Linked DNA regions of Homo sapiens. The protein of the gene in region 1 interacts with the protein of each later gene in a pairwise test. Each region holds a gene or a part of one and is shown in the gene's direction. Other genes may lie near its edges.

What was found.
Region 2: the proteins of SLC18A1 (region 1) and SLC38A7 interact in binary tests that used the Homo sapiens proteins (3 or more experiments, as listed by UniProt).
Region 3: the proteins of SLC18A1 (region 1) and SLC30A2 interact in binary tests that used the Homo sapiens proteins (3 or more experiments, as listed by UniProt).
Region 4: the proteins of SLC18A1 (region 1) and ANKRD46 interact in binary tests that used the Homo sapiens proteins (3 or more experiments, as listed by UniProt).

What each region holds. Positions count from the first base shown.
Region 1 is NC_000008.11:20,173,137-20,177,970, reverse strand, and holds part of SLC18A1 (chromaffin granule amine transporter), read left to right. Parts: intron 1-3,526; coding exon 3,527-3,610; intron 3,611-4,834.
Region 2 is NC_000016.10:58,667,771-58,671,270, reverse strand, and holds part of SLC38A7 (sodium-coupled neutral amino acid transporter 7), read left to right. Parts: intron 1-26; coding exon 27-226; exon of another isoform or gene 227-401; intron 402-1,103; coding exon 1,104-1,158; intron 1,159-3,500. UniProt on the Homo sapiens protein: Symporter that selectively cotransports sodium ions and amino acids, such as L-glutamine and L-asparagine from the lysosome into the cytoplasm and may participates in mTORC1 activation. The transport activity requires an acidic lysosomal lumen.
Region 3 is NC_000001.11:26,043,319-26,047,349, reverse strand, and holds the start of SLC30A2 (proton-coupled zinc antiporter SLC30A2), read left to right. Parts: upstream 1-1,231; 5' UTR 1,232-1,453; coding exon 1,454-1,503; intron 1,504-2,132; coding exon 2,133-2,353; intron 2,354-2,905; coding exon 2,906-3,052; intron 3,053-3,798; coding exon 3,799-3,952; intron 3,953-4,031.
Region 4 is NC_000008.11:100,553,260-100,556,759, reverse strand, and holds part of ANKRD46 (ankyrin repeat domain-containing protein 46), read left to right. Parts: intron 1-3,500.

The sequences.
Region 1 (4,834 bases):
CTTTTCAGTTAAGGGCTTTAAAGGTTAAGCTTAGAAAAGTAAATTTGCTAAAGAAACAAGAAAGAGAAAGACAAATACTCTATCCAGGATCAGCTAAATGTTTCTAATAAAATGGAGATGGGATAAACACAGTACATGAGAAAAGTAAGTCTGGAAATTGATGCTGAGAAGTAAAGGAAGAAGGAATGAAAAGGGTTAGCGTTAGCAGGTTAAGGCAGGGGAAGGCAGCCTGTGGATCCAGCCTTGGTTCCCGATGGCCCTGCTGAACCTCTGCTCTCCAACAACACACCTCCTTCTCCCTCGCGTTTTTCTTTTCTTTTCTTTTCTTTTTAATTATACTTTAAGTTCTAGGGTACACGTGCACAACGTGCAGGTTTGTTACGTATGTATACATGTGCCATGTTGGAGTACTGCACCCATTAACTCATCATTTACATTAGGTATATCTCCTAATGCTATCCCTCCCCTCTCCCCCGACTCCATGACAGGCCCCGGTGTGTGAAGTTCCCCTTCCGGTGTCCATGTGTTCTCTGTTCAATTCCCACCTATGAGTGAGAACATGCCTCTCATTTTTCTTATTACCTTTCTGTTCCTTGTCTACTTTCTGTCTTCCTCTTCCTCAACTTTTCTTCTTTCCCAGCACAGAACTTGATTCCTAGCAACCCAATATTTAACAAGAATTTGTTGCATTCTGGGCTGGAAGGCTGCAAACTGCAAGAACTTGAGATGTGAGGTTGTCTCTGAGAACTACGTCTTGTTTGTGAAATTTTAGTGGACTTGAAGAAAATGAAGAAATTCAAATTAGCACTGTTCATGGAACTTCTAGCAGTTCAGCCTAAGTTAGACAGCAAATTTAAAAATAATAAGATGCCAGGTGCCCTATTTCATCAAATGAGGCTTAAGATTTATTCCAAACAACTTTATGCAGTGCATGTATAATGCCCAGATGGCCATAGTCACATAAAGAATGAAAAGACATGATTCCAGCTATCAGAAGTGTATATGATGGTTGCCTGGGGAGACATGAGACACACACTGAGAAGTAAGACAATGCGGTGTGCTAGTGGATCTGAGACGTTTTAGCATGATATCCTTGCCTGATTCTCTGCCAAGAATTCATGTGTTAAAAGCTTTACTTTTAAAGTAAACTGTATATGTTAAGTAATTATTGTTTAACTTATACCAAACTATATATGTTAAATAATTATTATTTCCATAGGATAGCTGTGTTGCTATATGGAGTTGGCCTAATTCTAACCAAAAGAAAATACATTTGATGTTTAGGGTATCCTTGTCCAATGTTCTAAAAAATACTTAAAAGAGATTGTTGATGCCCGTTACTACCCTTAAACCCTCCACCCCCCAACTAGGAGCCATGCCTAATGTAATCAAGAGTGAAATGGTGGCCCATGTAAAGGGTCCAAAGTGAAAAAAATAATTGCTTTGGTATTCCTAAATAGAATGACCAACTCTCCTGGTTTGCCTAGAATTGAGGGGTGTCTTAGTCCATTTAGCATTGCTATAAAGGAGTACCTGAGGCTGGGTCATTTATATTAGAAAGAGGTTTGTTGGCTCATGGTTCTGCAGGCTCTACAAGAAGCATGACACCAGCATCTGCTTCTGGTGCGGGCCTCAGGGAGCTTCCACTCATGGTGGAAGGTGAAGGGGAGCTGGCTGTGCAGAGATGAGAGAGGAAGAAAGAGAGAGGAGAGGGAGGTGCCAGCCTTTTTTTAACCAGCAGCTCTTGAGAGAACTGTAGAGTGAGAACTCACTCACCACCAAAGGAAGACATTAAAGTATTCATGAGGGATCCTTCCCCATAACCCAAACACCTTCCACTGGGCCCCATCTCCAACACCGGGGATCAAATTTCAACATGAGATTTGGTGGGGACAAACAACCCATGTCCACACTGTAGTGAGGGGCTTCCCAGGATGTAAGACTTCCTGTTTTTGTGGGGTATTTTGAGTTTCAGTTTTAAAAACAAGGAAGTTCTGGGCAGACCAAGATGAGTGGGTCACTCTATTCTCAAAGGACATTGGGAGAGTAGACAGAAAAGACTGGAAATAACAAAGTCTGAGAAAAGATGCTGGTGGCCAGGAAAGAAGAGACCAAGAATGTGCATCTTTGGGAGACAAGGAGAAGTTCGGTGTGATCATGTCTGCCGGGAAGTAATGGGAGAAGATTAAAAACACAACCAAAGACATCTGTAATGAATGGGCAAAGGGATTACAATTCTTCTGATTCAGACACTTCGAGGAGATTATTCTTACCCTAGGAGACATTTTTCTGGAATTGGAGGTGAGACATGTCTGGACTTAACTACCCTGACCACCAGCACCCTCTGATTTAGTTTTGTGTTGCGGGAAGTCAGGGACCCTGAATGGAAGGACCTGCTGAAGCCATGACAGAAGAACATAAATCATGAAGATTTCATGGACATTTATTAGTTCCCCAAATTAATACTTTTATAATTTCTCACACTTGTCTTTACTGCAATCTCTGAACATAAAATTGTGAAGATTTCATGGACATTTATCACTTCCCCAATTATCAATACTCTTATAATTTCCTATGCCTGTCTTTACTTTAATCTCTTAATCCCATGGTCTTCGTAAACTGAGGATGTATGTCGACTCAGGACCCTGTGAGGATTGCGTTAACTGCACAAATTGTTCATAAAGCGTGTGTGTTTGAACAATATGAGATCTCAGAACCTTGAAAAAAGAATAGGATAATGGAGATGTTCAGGGAGCAAGGGGAGATAACCATTAGGTCTGACTGTCTGGGAGCCTGGCAGGACAGAGCCATATTTCTCTTATTGTTTTGGATGACATATTCCTGTTGGATCTCAGTTTCCTGGGTGTCCATCTTCAACACACTGCCTCTCTTCACGGACAATAACTAGATGTTATTTTTATTTTGCATTTGCTACAGAGTCTAGCAGAGCTGCGCATTCAGTATAATTTAATACCTGCTGATTTTGTCTGGTTAAAAGATCGTTCAATATAAGATATAAAAAAGGATCTGATTGTATCACAAGATATTATTTTCTACCCAATTCCTATAATCCTCGAAGCACCTACTTACTGTCACTGTACTCCAGATGATCCTGTGGGACCCAGCAATGGTAAAGACCAGATCTGGATTTTGCACATGGACGATCCAGGAGTATGATCTAAGAACCAGTTTCCAGCCTAGGACACTGAGCTTCATGGACATCCCTCATTTCAGTGGACAGAATGTTGGGTTCTTGGCAAGAGATGTACAGACTCAGCCTTCCATCTGCTGTGTGGTGACTCGGTTTATACTTCTGTGGTTTCTCAGTTTTCTTGCCATTTAAATAGCAAAACTGAGGAGTGGGAGATTGAAAAGACAACTCAAAAAACAGGGAACAGTCATCATGCTTTATTAAAAACATATGCATCAAGACTCATATCTGCAGTATCACGGGCATGTTCTCTGGCGGCTGGGGAAGCAAAGGCAATTTGCTAACTGCAGTTATCTTGCTATTCTCTCTGCCCAGTGTTTGCTTTTTCTGGGACCTATACTCTACTCTTTGTGGCCCGAACCCTTCAAGGCATTGGATCTTCATTTTCATCTGTTGCAGGTAACACTGGCAACTCATCATGCACACACACATGCAGGCATGCACACACACACATCTCTTACTACCTCAGATCCTATATTTACATGGAGAAATTAAGGAAAATGTCACCTGGATAGGTAGAAATTGTGATTCAGAAATAAGGGAATTGGGCTGGGCACAGTGGCTCACACCTGTAACCCCTGCACTTTGGGAAGCCAAGGCAGGAGGATAGCTTGATTCTAGGAGTCTGAGACCAACCCGGGCAGCCTGGGCAACATAGTGAGAGCCCTATTTCTATTAAAAAAAAGAGAGAATAAGTTAGCCAGGCATGGTGGTGTGCACCTGTGGTCCCAGCTACTTGGGAGGCTAAAGTGGGAGGATGGCTTGAGCTTGGGTGGTCAAGGCTGCAGTGAGCCATGATTGTGCCTCTGCACTTCAGCCTGGGTGACAGAGCTAGACCCTAACTCAAAAAAAAAAAAAAAAAAAGAAAGGAATTACAGAGTTTCTAACAGGGTCCATAGATCTCTGAGCCTGACATAACTTCCTCTGCTAATATTCAGATGCAGCTAGCTCAGGTCAGAGCAAGCCTCCAGTGAAGCTATGAAGAAGGGCAGGCTTTCATTTAGTGCCACTCTATGGTCCTTTTTCTGTCCCCCTCTTAGTACTTTATAGGAATAATCATGTTAGTACTACTGGTAACACCAGCACAGTTTTCAAAGTACTGGTGAATATAATATCTAATGCAATCTTATGAAGTTGGCATTTTATGCCATTTTACCCATAGCTATGAAGGCCAGAGGGTCCAGCTGCCGTACAGCACTAGCCCACACTTTCTTCCAGGTCTGCAGTGCTTTCCTGCTCTTCCCTGGGCACCCCTGTTAAATAGAATGGTCTCTGTGTGCCTAGATTTTCCTTTCCCTGATCTGCTCTGTAACCCCTCATTTTGGGAAATGTGCTAGGAAATGATAAAATGTTATGAAACATGGTATAATCAGACAATGGATTTTCTGTGTTATCCTTCCAGAGGGCTTGCACTATCAACAATATTCTGAACAGGAGTGGACAATGTGGGGGCTTGGGGGACTAGGGAGGGTAGTACTTGAAAAATACTACGGGTTAAGTTTTGTAAAACCCCTCAAACTGAAACTCTAGCTAAGATTGTCACTGAAGAGATAACAGGGTGGGACCAAGGGCTCTGAGAGGCGGATAGAAGCCCCCCAGGGGGCCAGCTGCATCTGTAACTCT
Region 2 (3,500 bases), on another chromosome or scaffold:
CTCTAAGCCCTTCTCCATGTGGGCAGGGCGGTGGTGGAAGGCCTGTGGCTGCGCTACCAGGGGGTGCCAGTGGAGGAGGACGTGGGGCGGGAGCGGCGGCGGCGAGTGCTGCAGACGCTGGTCTGGTTCCTGCTCACCCTGCTGCTGGCGCTCTTCATCCCTGACATCGGCAAGGTGATCTCAGTCATTGGAGGCCTGGCCGCCTGCTTCATCTTCGTCTTCCCAGGTGCGGACCCCTGGCGCCCCATCTCACAGCCCCACAGCACAGACTCCCAGGGCCTGCCTAGCCTCAGCTCCCTACTTGCTCAAAACATGCAGGAGAGAGTAACCACCAGCACTAATTGATCACCTGTCTCGCCTCTGTACTAGCCCCTATCCAAGCATTATCTCCTGGAAAGAAGGTATAGTTGTGATCTCCAGTTTACTGATGGCACGTGGGGCTCAGAAAGGGTCACAGACTTGCCTAGAGCTTAACAAACTCAACTAGTAACCTTTTCCATCCCACGCTGTCTGGGTCCAGAGTCTATTCTTTTAACCATTCATTCAGGTGTCTGCTGCTCCTTGACTATGAGGGATCTATCTGGCTGGTTCAGCCCATTACAGCCCAGAGGGCAGTGGGGTCTGGGGTGGCACCCTGACACAGACATCAGGGAACCTGGGTTCCAGACACAGATCTACCGCCAGATCCCTGGAGAACTGTCCTGTCTGCCCAGCCATGAGTTCCACCCTTTTCCAGCTTGTCTCTATCCAGGAAGCCACCCTGAAAGCCCCAGCTGCTTTGCTTGGAGCAGGGGAGCCAGATCTGCTGGGAAGTGTACTAGGAAGACCCCTGGGGTTGGGCCACCACTGAGTCACCATTGAGTGCTGTCCCTTTAGCTGAGTCTAGCATGCTGCCCAAGGGGTCTTGTCAGATGCCAGCCTGTCATGGGAGAGCAGATGCCAGATGACCCCAGCAGGATGTGGTGTGGGGGCAGAGATGGAATTTCTAGAAGAGTAAACATGGGCCTTTCTCCATCCAGCACTGCTTCTTGGGAAAGGAGGTGGCTAGGAGGGAGGGAGCCCTCTCCCCTCACAAATGCTCAGGGCCACTTCTTCTCTTTCAGGGCTGTGCCTCATTCAAGCCAAACTCTCTGAGATGGAAGAGGTCAAACCAGCCAGGTAAAGCAGGACCCAGCCCTTGATCCTCTCAGGGAGGTGCTGGATTGGAATGTGGCTTTGTGGGGGCCTTAAAACAGATAGGAGTCAGAGGCTTGTGTACTTAGAAATCATGGGTTTTTGTTTTGTTTTTTTTTTTTTGAGCCGGAGTCTCGCTGTGTCGCCCAGCCTGGAGTGCAGTGGCACGATCTCAGCTCACTGCAAGCTCCGCCTCCTGGGTTCACACCATTCTCGTGCCTCAGCCTCCCGAGTAGCTAGGACTACAGATGCCTGCCACCACACCCAGCTAATTTTTGTATTTTTAGTAGAGACGAGGTTTCACCATGTTGGCCAGGCCGGTCTCGAACTCCTGACCTTAGGTGATCCTCCTTCCTCGGCCTCCCAAAGTGCTGGCATTACAGGCGTGAGCCACCACACCCAGCCAGGTTGTTGTTGTTTTTTTTTTAATACTTTTAAAAATTCGGTAGTGTGCTAGTTGTTAACAATTTAAACATTAATAAAGGGCTTAATACAAAAAGATGGAAGTCCCTCTTCCCCCACAACCCACTCGCCCCCACATCCTTTCTGAGATAGCTCCATGTTACCAGTATGGTCTGTGTCCTCAACCACTTCTGTACATGTGTGCGTGTCTGTGTACACATAGCTATGGAGATGTATACATAGATGCAGGGCTCTTGTTTTGTTTTATGAAAAGTGGTTTCAGCCAGGTGCATTGGCTCATGCCTGTAATCCCAGCACTTTGGGAGGCCAACATGGGCAGATCACCCGAGGTCAGGAGTTCGAGACCAGCCTGACCAACATGGTGAAACCCCATCTCTACTAAAAATACAAAATTAGCTGGGCATGGTGGCACCTGCCTGTAATCCCAGCTACTTGGGAGACTGAGGCAGGAGAATTGCTTGAACCCAGGAGGCGGAGGTTGCAGTGAGCCGAGATCACACCATTACACTCCAGCCTGGGCAACAAGAGGGAAACTCTGTCTCAAAAAAAAAAAAAAAAAAAAAAAAAAAAAGCCATACAAACATGTCTAAAAAAGAAAAAAAATTGGCCAGGCACAGTGACTCACGCCTGTAATCCCAGCACTTTGGGAGGCCAAGACAGGCAGATCACCTGAGGTCAGGAGTTCGAGACCAGCCTGGCCAACATGGCAAAACCCCGTCTTTACTAAAAATACAAAAATTACCTGGTTGTGGTGGCGCATGCCTGTAGTCCTAGCTCGGGAGGCTGAGGTAGGAGAATTGCTTGAACCCCGGAGGCGGAGGTTGCAGTAAGTGGAGATCGCACCACTGCACTCCAGCCTGGGTGATAGCAAAACTCTGTCTCAAAAAAAGAAAAAGAAGAAGAAGAAAAAAAATCACCCTTTATTTCTTTTTTTTTTGTCTTTTTTTTTTTTTTTTTTTTTGAGATGGAGTTTCACTCGTTGCCCAGGCTGGAGTGCAATGGCGCGATCTCTGCTCACTACAACAACCTCCACCTCCCGGGTTCAAGCGATTCTCCTGCCTCAGCCTCCTGAGTAGCTTGGATTACAGGCGCCCACCACCACACCCAGCTAATTTTTTGGGTTTGTTGTTGTTGTTTTGAGATGGAATCTCGCTCTGTCACCCAGGCTGGAGTGCAGTGGCATGATCTCGGCTCACTGCAACCTCCAGGGTATCTGGGATTACAGGTGCGCAGCACCATGCCTGGCTAATTTTTGTATTTTTGGTAGAGACGGGGTTTCACCATGTTGGCTAGGCTGATCTCGAACTCCTGACCTCAGGTGATCCGCCCACCTTGGCCTCCCAAAGTTCTGGGATTACAGGCGTGAGCCACCATACCCAGCCATTTTTTGTATTTTTTTAGTAGAGACGGGGTTTCACCACGCTGGCCAGGCTGGTCTCAAACTCCTGACCTCAGGTGATCCACCTGCCTTGGCCTCCCAAAGTGCTGGGATTATAGACATGAGCCACCACACCCAGCCTAATTTTTCTATTTTTAGTAGAGATGGGGTTTCGCCATCTTGCCCAGGCTGGTCTTGAACTCCTGACCTCAGGTGATCCATCTGCCTCGGCCTCCCAAAGTGCTGGAATTACAGACATGAGCCACTGCACCCAGCCTAATTTTTCTGTTTTTAGTAGAGATGGGGTTTTGCCATCTTGCCCAGGCTGGTCTCGAACTCCTGACCTCAGGTTGCCCGCCTTGGCCTCCCAAAGTGCTGGGATTACAGGTGTGAGCCACCACACCCGGCCGGAAATCACCCTTTATTTCAATTCCGTTTTATCCCTGTTGCTGTTAATTGGTACATACATTTGCAGATGTCTGCTTTTTGTTTCCTTTTTTTAATGAAATAGACCACATTCCATGTG
Region 3 (4,031 bases), on another chromosome or scaffold:
TTTCCAGAAGAAAACCAGAGTCCAGAGAAGCAGAGAGGCACTCAGTGAGGACCCAAGCAGAGCGGGTGCACCTCACATCCTCACTCCTGGCACCCCGTCTCCTACAAGATGAGAGACTGAAAGAGCCCCTTCCTGTCCCCAGTGGTGTGGGCAAGAGGCCTGCACCTCTGACTCTTGGCTCTGTGAAAGGCCATACCCACCAAGCCTATGGTCCTAGCGACAAAGGGTGCTGGGGAGACGAATTGACCAGACAGGGAGGTCTCCAGCAGCTTCTTTCTACACAGAGGGCACCTGTCAGAGGCCAGCGTGGGGGCCACAGGCTCCCCAATCCCCAAGAACCGCCAGGGAAGGAGGCTGCTTCAAGTGGGTGGGGCACCAAGCTGGCCAGGAAGGACAGGGCTTCTCCCAGCGGTACCAACACGGTGGCACCTCCGGCCTGCATCTCCCAGGCTTGCTTGTCAGGCTTCCTGGGGCTCCCAGGAGCCGCTGCGGGGGAGGGGAGAAGGGGTGGCAGCAGTGGCAGTGGTCGTCTCTGCTCCGATGGTGACTGCCGATGACACTGTTCTCTGTGCGGGTGGAGACAAAGCCGGCCACTCCAGATTCTCCTGCGCGCAGGAGAGGAGGAGCTGGCGCTGCTTCAGTGGCGAGGATGGGTCGATCAGTCCCAGCCGGTCCTAGGGAGAGACACTGCCCCAGCCTGAGGGCGGCGCAGCCCACCCCACCCCAGGACCCTCCTAGCAGGAGGACAGGAACGCAAGCCGACCTCGGGGGGTCTCCGGCCTGAGAGGGGAACATGATCAAGCCCAGGGCAGCCGCCAGTCGGAGGGGGCAGACGCGGCCCCAGTAGCCTCTGGAGACCCTCTTCCGAGGCAAGGAGCCACATTCCTGCCGTCGGGACCACCAAAGCGGATTTCTACAAACTAAAGTCGAGAACTTTTCGGCGGCGAGGCGGCGCACCCCGCGCGGGAGAGGGGGCGCAGGCGTCACCCCGTCCTCACTCAGCAACACCCGGCGCCGCGCCGGGCGAAGGCTGGCAAACTTCTCGCGGCCGGCAGGTGGGCTCCGCGGGCCCCATGGGCGCAGGCACAGGTGTGCGGGGCCACAGCCGGGCCTTTTGCAGCCGGCGACCGCCCCCCCTTCCCCGCGGGCTTTTGCACACGACGCGCCGACGGCAGCTTCACACGGGTTGGCGAGGGCCGGATAAAGCCGGCGGCCGCGGGGCGCAGCGGCTGACCCGAGACACGGGAGCGCTTGGCACGCGGAGCCAGAGCCGGAGCTGCAGCCGCAGCGGGAGCCGGGGGAGCTCAGGGGCCGCAGGAGCCGGGCCGGAGTGAGCGCACCTCGCGGGGCCCTCGGGGCAGGTGGGTGAGCGCCACCCGGAGTCCCGCGCGCAACTTTCAGGGCGCACTCGGCGGGGCGGCTGCGCGGCTGCCGGGACTCGGCGCGGGACTGCATGGAGGCCAAGGAGAAGCAGCATCTGTTGGACGCCAGGCCGGCAATCCGGTAAGGCGAGAGCCTGGGGACGGGCGGGAATTTTGGCGGCAGCCGACGCACCTCCGCATTTGCCATCCTAGCAGTGGTTGGTTTTGGCTGCGGCTTGAGCTGGGACCATGCAGGAGGGGTGGGGTGAGGTGAGGGAACGAAGATAATGGGCTGTGGCCCAAGGACCGTCTCTCCCTTGGGGCGCAGCCCAGATTCTGACCCCTGCCCGCGGGGGGCCTGGGGCCGGGGGATTGGCGGTTCCCATGCCTGGAGTCCCGCCCCGCCCAGCACTTTGCCCCAGGCAGCCCCGCCCCGGGGAGGCCCTGTGTCCCAAGTGCGCTGGAGGGGGCCTGCTGTTCTCCCAGAGCCTGCGCTCTGTTCCTTCCCCGCGCTCCACTGGACAGCACGCCCCTTGGCCGGTTCCCAGGGTCTTCACCTCCTCTGGCCTCTGAAGGGCCCCGGGCCCCAGGACTCCCATTCCCCTATCATCCCCGTCTGAATACAGGCTTCTCACCTCTGGTTTGTCGAGCTCGGAGCGTCCTTAGCTATTTTTCCCAGTGGACACAAGGCCTCACAGAGAAATGGGACTAGAGTCGGCCCTCCTTACCTCATCTCAGAGCTGAGCGTTCCCTCTCTTCCCCTCTGGCCAGGTCATACACGGGATCTCTGTGGCAGGAAGGGGCTGGCTGGATTCCTCTGCCCCGACCTGGCCTGGACTTGCAGGCCATTGAGCTGGCTGCCCAGAGCAACCATCACTGCCATGCTCAGAAGGGTCCTGACAGTCACTGTGACCCCAAGAAGGGGAAGGCCCAGCGCCAGCTGTATGTAGCCTCTGCCATCTGCCTGTTGTTCATGATCGGAGAAGTCGTTGGTAAGCACTTTTGGGCTAATTAAATGAAGTTGGTGCATGGATAGACTGGATGTTCCCAGCAATACTGACACTAAAAGCCCCAATTACTGAACACACACTACAGTAAGCCTTTATATACACATTATCTGATGCAGGTCTAACAACAACCTGTGTTCTCACATGGGTGACGTTATTCTCCTTACTTTACAGATGATGAAACTGAGGCATGTTCAGGTGAAGTAACTTGCCAAAGATCACGCACAACTCGTAGCTAAGGGAAGGCCTGAATTCCTAGAAGGGAAGAGCATTTACTGAGTATCTGCTATGTTTTCCAGTCCCTATTTGAACTTGATGTGCACATTCACCCTCTAAGTAGATATTGGTGGCCCATTTCACAGAGAGTGGAAGTTGAGGCTCAGAGAGAGTAGGTCACTTGTCACGGTGGTACAGCTCATGGGTAGAGAGATCTTGAGCCCAGAATGTCCTCTTCCAGAGCCTGTGGTCTCCCTGCTGCACACACAGTCTTGGGAGCCAGCTCTCTGGGGGAGCTGATAAGGACCCTCCACCCTGCAGGTGGGTACCTGGCACACAGCTTGGCTGTCATGACTGACGCAGCACACCTGCTCACTGACTTTGCCAGCATGCTCATCAGCCTCTTCTCCCTCTGGATGTCCTCCCGGCCAGCCACCAAGACCATGAACTTTGGCTGGCAGAGAGCTGGTGAGGATCGCGGTTTGGCTGGAGATGGGGTTGAGAGAGAGGGTGGGTTAGAACAGGGGTTCTTAGGTGGCTGTAATGGGTGGATCCCCCCTTCCTCCCCTGAGTGAGGCCAGGAGGGTGATCTGGATGGGGGAAGAGGATGTCAACCATGGCCTCTGTCCTCTGGGAAATCCTAGTCTGATGGGGGAGCCCTGGTCCCAGTCATCCAGGAGCTCTCAGTCTGCAGGGAAGCAAAGTTGACCTTCCTAAGAAGTGCAGTAGCCAAGCTTCAAGAACAAATGACAATGGCATTAACACTGCACATAACTCTGTGGATCAGCTCTGGGGGGAGGGGAAGGCCAGCAAAGGCTGCTGGAAGATATAGGCTTTAACCTCTCTTCCGTTCACCCTGGACTGCATCGTCACCTTCCTCTTTGTGGGAGATGGCCCAGCCTGTCTTCCCCAGAAGCCTCAGTTTACTAGCTGAACAAAAGGCACATACTTTAATAAGTCAGCTTCTTTACATGTACAACCAAAAAGGTGGACTCAGATGATGACTTATTAGTTCCTTCTAGCTCTTACATTCCTAGATATATGAGGGGTGGGGTAAGGGGCAGCCATACCGGCCATACCTTCAGCAGAGCCCAGTGGGACCCAGGCCCTGACTTTGTGTGGGAGGTGGGTGGGGAGGATCCTGAAGGAAGGGGGAAGACTCCTTAGCTCCAGGCCCATGCCAAGGTGGGTGTTGGGGTTGGGTTCTTCCTCAGAGATCTTGGGAGCCCTGGTCTCTGTACTGTCCATCTGGGTCGTGACGGGGGTACTGGTGTACCTGGCTGTGGAGCGGCTGATCTCTGGGGACTATGAAATTGACGGGGGGACCATGCTGATCACGTCGGGCTGCGCTGTGGCTGTGAACATCATGTGAGTGGGGCCCCAGTTTCCCTCGTCTCCCCTCCTCCTCCCGCCTCTCACACCCACACCTATGTCTGCTTTGCGGAAA
Region 4 (3,500 bases), about 80 Mb from region 1:
GCTGATTGACAAGTCAAGTAAGATGAAGACTAGGAGATGACCATTGGATTTAGTAATAGGAAGGTCCTTGGTGACCTTGCAAGAGCACTTTCAGGAGAATAGTGAGGAAGAAAACCTGATTGGTGTGGTTTCAAGAGACAACAGGAGGAAGAGCATTGGAGACTGCAGTATGGACAGCTCTTTGGAAGAGGTTAGCTGTAAATTTTTCATATGTCGGTTATTTGAAAGCACTGTAGTCGTTCCCATAGTAAATTTTTATTTCCAGCTTAAGCTACTGATTAATACCTACTACACTTGGATTGTTTTAATCAATGACTGGTGGAAATAAAATAGCTATCCTACTGCTGATCATAATAATAATGTATACTTAACTTTCTAAACCAATAAAGCGTGTCCTTTTTACGTAGTACATTTCAGAGCCCATAAAAATGCTTGGGTGGGCTGGGCGAAGTGGCTCATGCCTGTAATCCCAACACTTTGGGAGGCCGAGACTGGAGGATCTGTTGAGCTCAGGAGTTCAAGACCAGCCTGGACAACATAGGGAGAGCTCATCTCTACAAAAAACTTTAAAATTAGTTGGGCGTGCTAGCACACACCTGTGGTCCCAGCTACTTGGAAGGCTGAGGTGGAAGCATCTCATGGGCCTGGGAGATTGAGGCTTCAGTGAGCCATGATTGAGCCACTGCATAGTTTCAAATGTAGTAGGTGTATAAAAAGAATGCAATTTTTATCTTAAGGCATGAGTTCAGGTTCTTGTTTCTGCCCTCAGCAAGTTAATGTCCAAACCCAAATACAAAATAATCAAGGTACGCAGTAAAATACCAGATTTACACCATCCTGACTGGATAAATGTGCCTTTTCCATAGCAAATACAGCCATCTGTTGCATTGTAGATGTAAAATGATTAAAATATTTCAAAGTTTAGGGTTATAGCTACTGATTTTTTAAATCCAATAATTTTATCTAAAAGATAACAGGTCCTTTAGATGTGGAAATCTTTTTTTTTTTTTTTTTTTTTTTTTTTTTTTTTTTTTTTTAGCTGAGGAAAATATTAAGTTGGTGCCTTTTGTTTTGCTCTTGTTTTTTTCTCCAGGAATTTTTCATTGGTTGGCTCTCCTTTCTTGTTCTCATTGCTGTCATCTCACACATCCTTTCTAACTTTTTTCTTTTGCATAGCTTCTTAAGTTAGGCCCTTCCATCACTGATTTCCTTACTGCTTATAATTTGGATTTTAAATTTCTATTGTGTTTTTATTTAACTTATAGTCTTTTTTTTTTTAGTCCCAGTCCTCTTTAATACTGTTTTTTCCCCCACCCTGAGTTCTTAATTTTTTGTATGTCCCTGAGAGCACAGTATTTTTCTGGATTTTTTTCATTTTCTTATTGTAAGTAATTCTCAGTGGTGTGCTTTTCTTCATGTAGATCTAGTGCACCTCTTTGCTTCTGGTGTAGAATTTTTTCACTGACTCCATGTTGACTTTCTTTTGGTTTTTTTTTTATCCTTTAAAAATGAAAGAACTTCTGAGACTATAATATTGAATTTGTCATACTAGTACCATTCTACTGAAGGTTTTTTCTAGATTTCCTATAAGGAAAATAATTAGAGAACTGGGTTTTGTCTAGGCATTCTATAAAAGACACTATTGTGATGTTTGTAAAAGATTTCTATTTAAAATAACTTTCAGTACTATTAGAACTTAAGTTTATGGTTATGTCTCTGTGATAAGTACTTTTTTTTTTTTTTTGGAGATGGAGTCTCACTCTATCACCCAGGCTGGAGTGCAGTGGCACAATCTTGGCTCACTGCATCAAACGATTCTCCTGCCTCAGCCTCCTGAGTAGCTGGGACCACAGGCACACACCACCACACACAGCTAATTTTTGTATTTTTAGTGGAGATGGGGTTTCATCATGTTGGCCAGGCTGGTCTCTAACTCCTGACCTCAAGTGATCCACCTCAGCCTCTCAAACTGCTGAGATTACAGGCATGAGCCACTGCACCTGGCTAAGTACTTTTTTTTTCCTTGTGTTTTTTTGAGACAGGGTTTTGCTCTGTTGCTCAGGCTGGAGTGCAGTGGCACAATCATGGCTGAATGCACCCTCCACCTCCCAGGCTCGAGTGATCCTCCTGCCTCAGCCTTGAATATCTGGGACAACAGGCACGCACGCACCACCATGCAAGGTTTATTTTTAAATTTTTTTTGTAGAGATGGGGTTTCACACTATGTTGCCCAGGCTGGTCTGGAATCCTTAGGCTCAAGTGATCCTCTTGCTCCAGATTCCCTAAAGTGCTGGGACTATAGGTGTGAGTCACTGCACCCAGCCAAGTACTTTTTAAAATTAAACTGGTAAACAGACATTAGAATTACCAATGTAAACTTTATATCTAAAACCAAAATCAATTACAAAGGATCATTATTTTCCAAAGTAGATACTTTTTTTTAGTGCTGTTCAGTTTTTCTGAAGCTTATCTTTGTTCACAAGGATTGTTAGCACTTCCACCAAATCAGTGTTTAGAAACCTTAAATAATTTAACGTCTGACTTGCCAGTACATTATTAGAGAAACAATTCCAAGACCAAAACATGTTGAATAAGCAGGAGATATACACCAATTTGATTTTAAAATGGACAGCTTTCCTGTCTCTGGCTCTCTCTCATGTTGCCTTAAACACACATATGCTGAAGAAATCATATACAGATACTTGCATGCATTTAATAAACTATCCAATAAGTGGTGCTTTTAATAAATTCTGAATACAATCAATTAAAAGATTTGTGCACATTATTATTTAGGTATGGTACCAAGTAAATCAGAAACAAATGCAAGAGCACGAATGGTTTATTTAGCTACCTTTCCATATTGGGTCTTGATGACATTAGATACTCTGCTGTATTTTATTTTTTAAAGTAAACATATTAAAACTAGCCAAATAACCTATATTTTCTTTTATTACATTATGATGCCTTTTTTGGTTTGCCTGAGTTTTTTTGGTTTTTGTTTGTTTGTTTTTGAGATGGAGTTTTGCTCTGTCTCCCAGGCTGGAGTGCAGTGGTGCAACCTCAGCTCACTGTAGCTTCCGCCTCCTGGGTTGAAGCGATTCTCCTGTCTCAGCCTCCCAAGTAGCTGCGACTACAGGTACATGCCATCACACCCAGCTAATTTTTGTATTTTTAGTGGAGACGGGGTTTCACTATATTGGCCAGGCTGGTCTCAAACTCCTGACCTCAAGTGATCTGCTGTGGCCTCCCAAAGTGCTAGGATTACAGGCATGAGCCACCACACCCAGCCTGCGTAAGTTTAATTAAAAAAACAAAAATATTCTGAGTGTGACTTTGTTGAAACAGTTTATATAGGCATTTTAACTTTGGTGGCAGTTTTAGTCCTACTATCAGTCATCTTTTTTCCAGTAGCCCAGCATTGCTGCTACGTTAATTTAAATCTGCCCCTCTGCCCTCTCCTCAGTCTTTTGGCTGTATTTTGCCCATTGGCTGTTAATGCT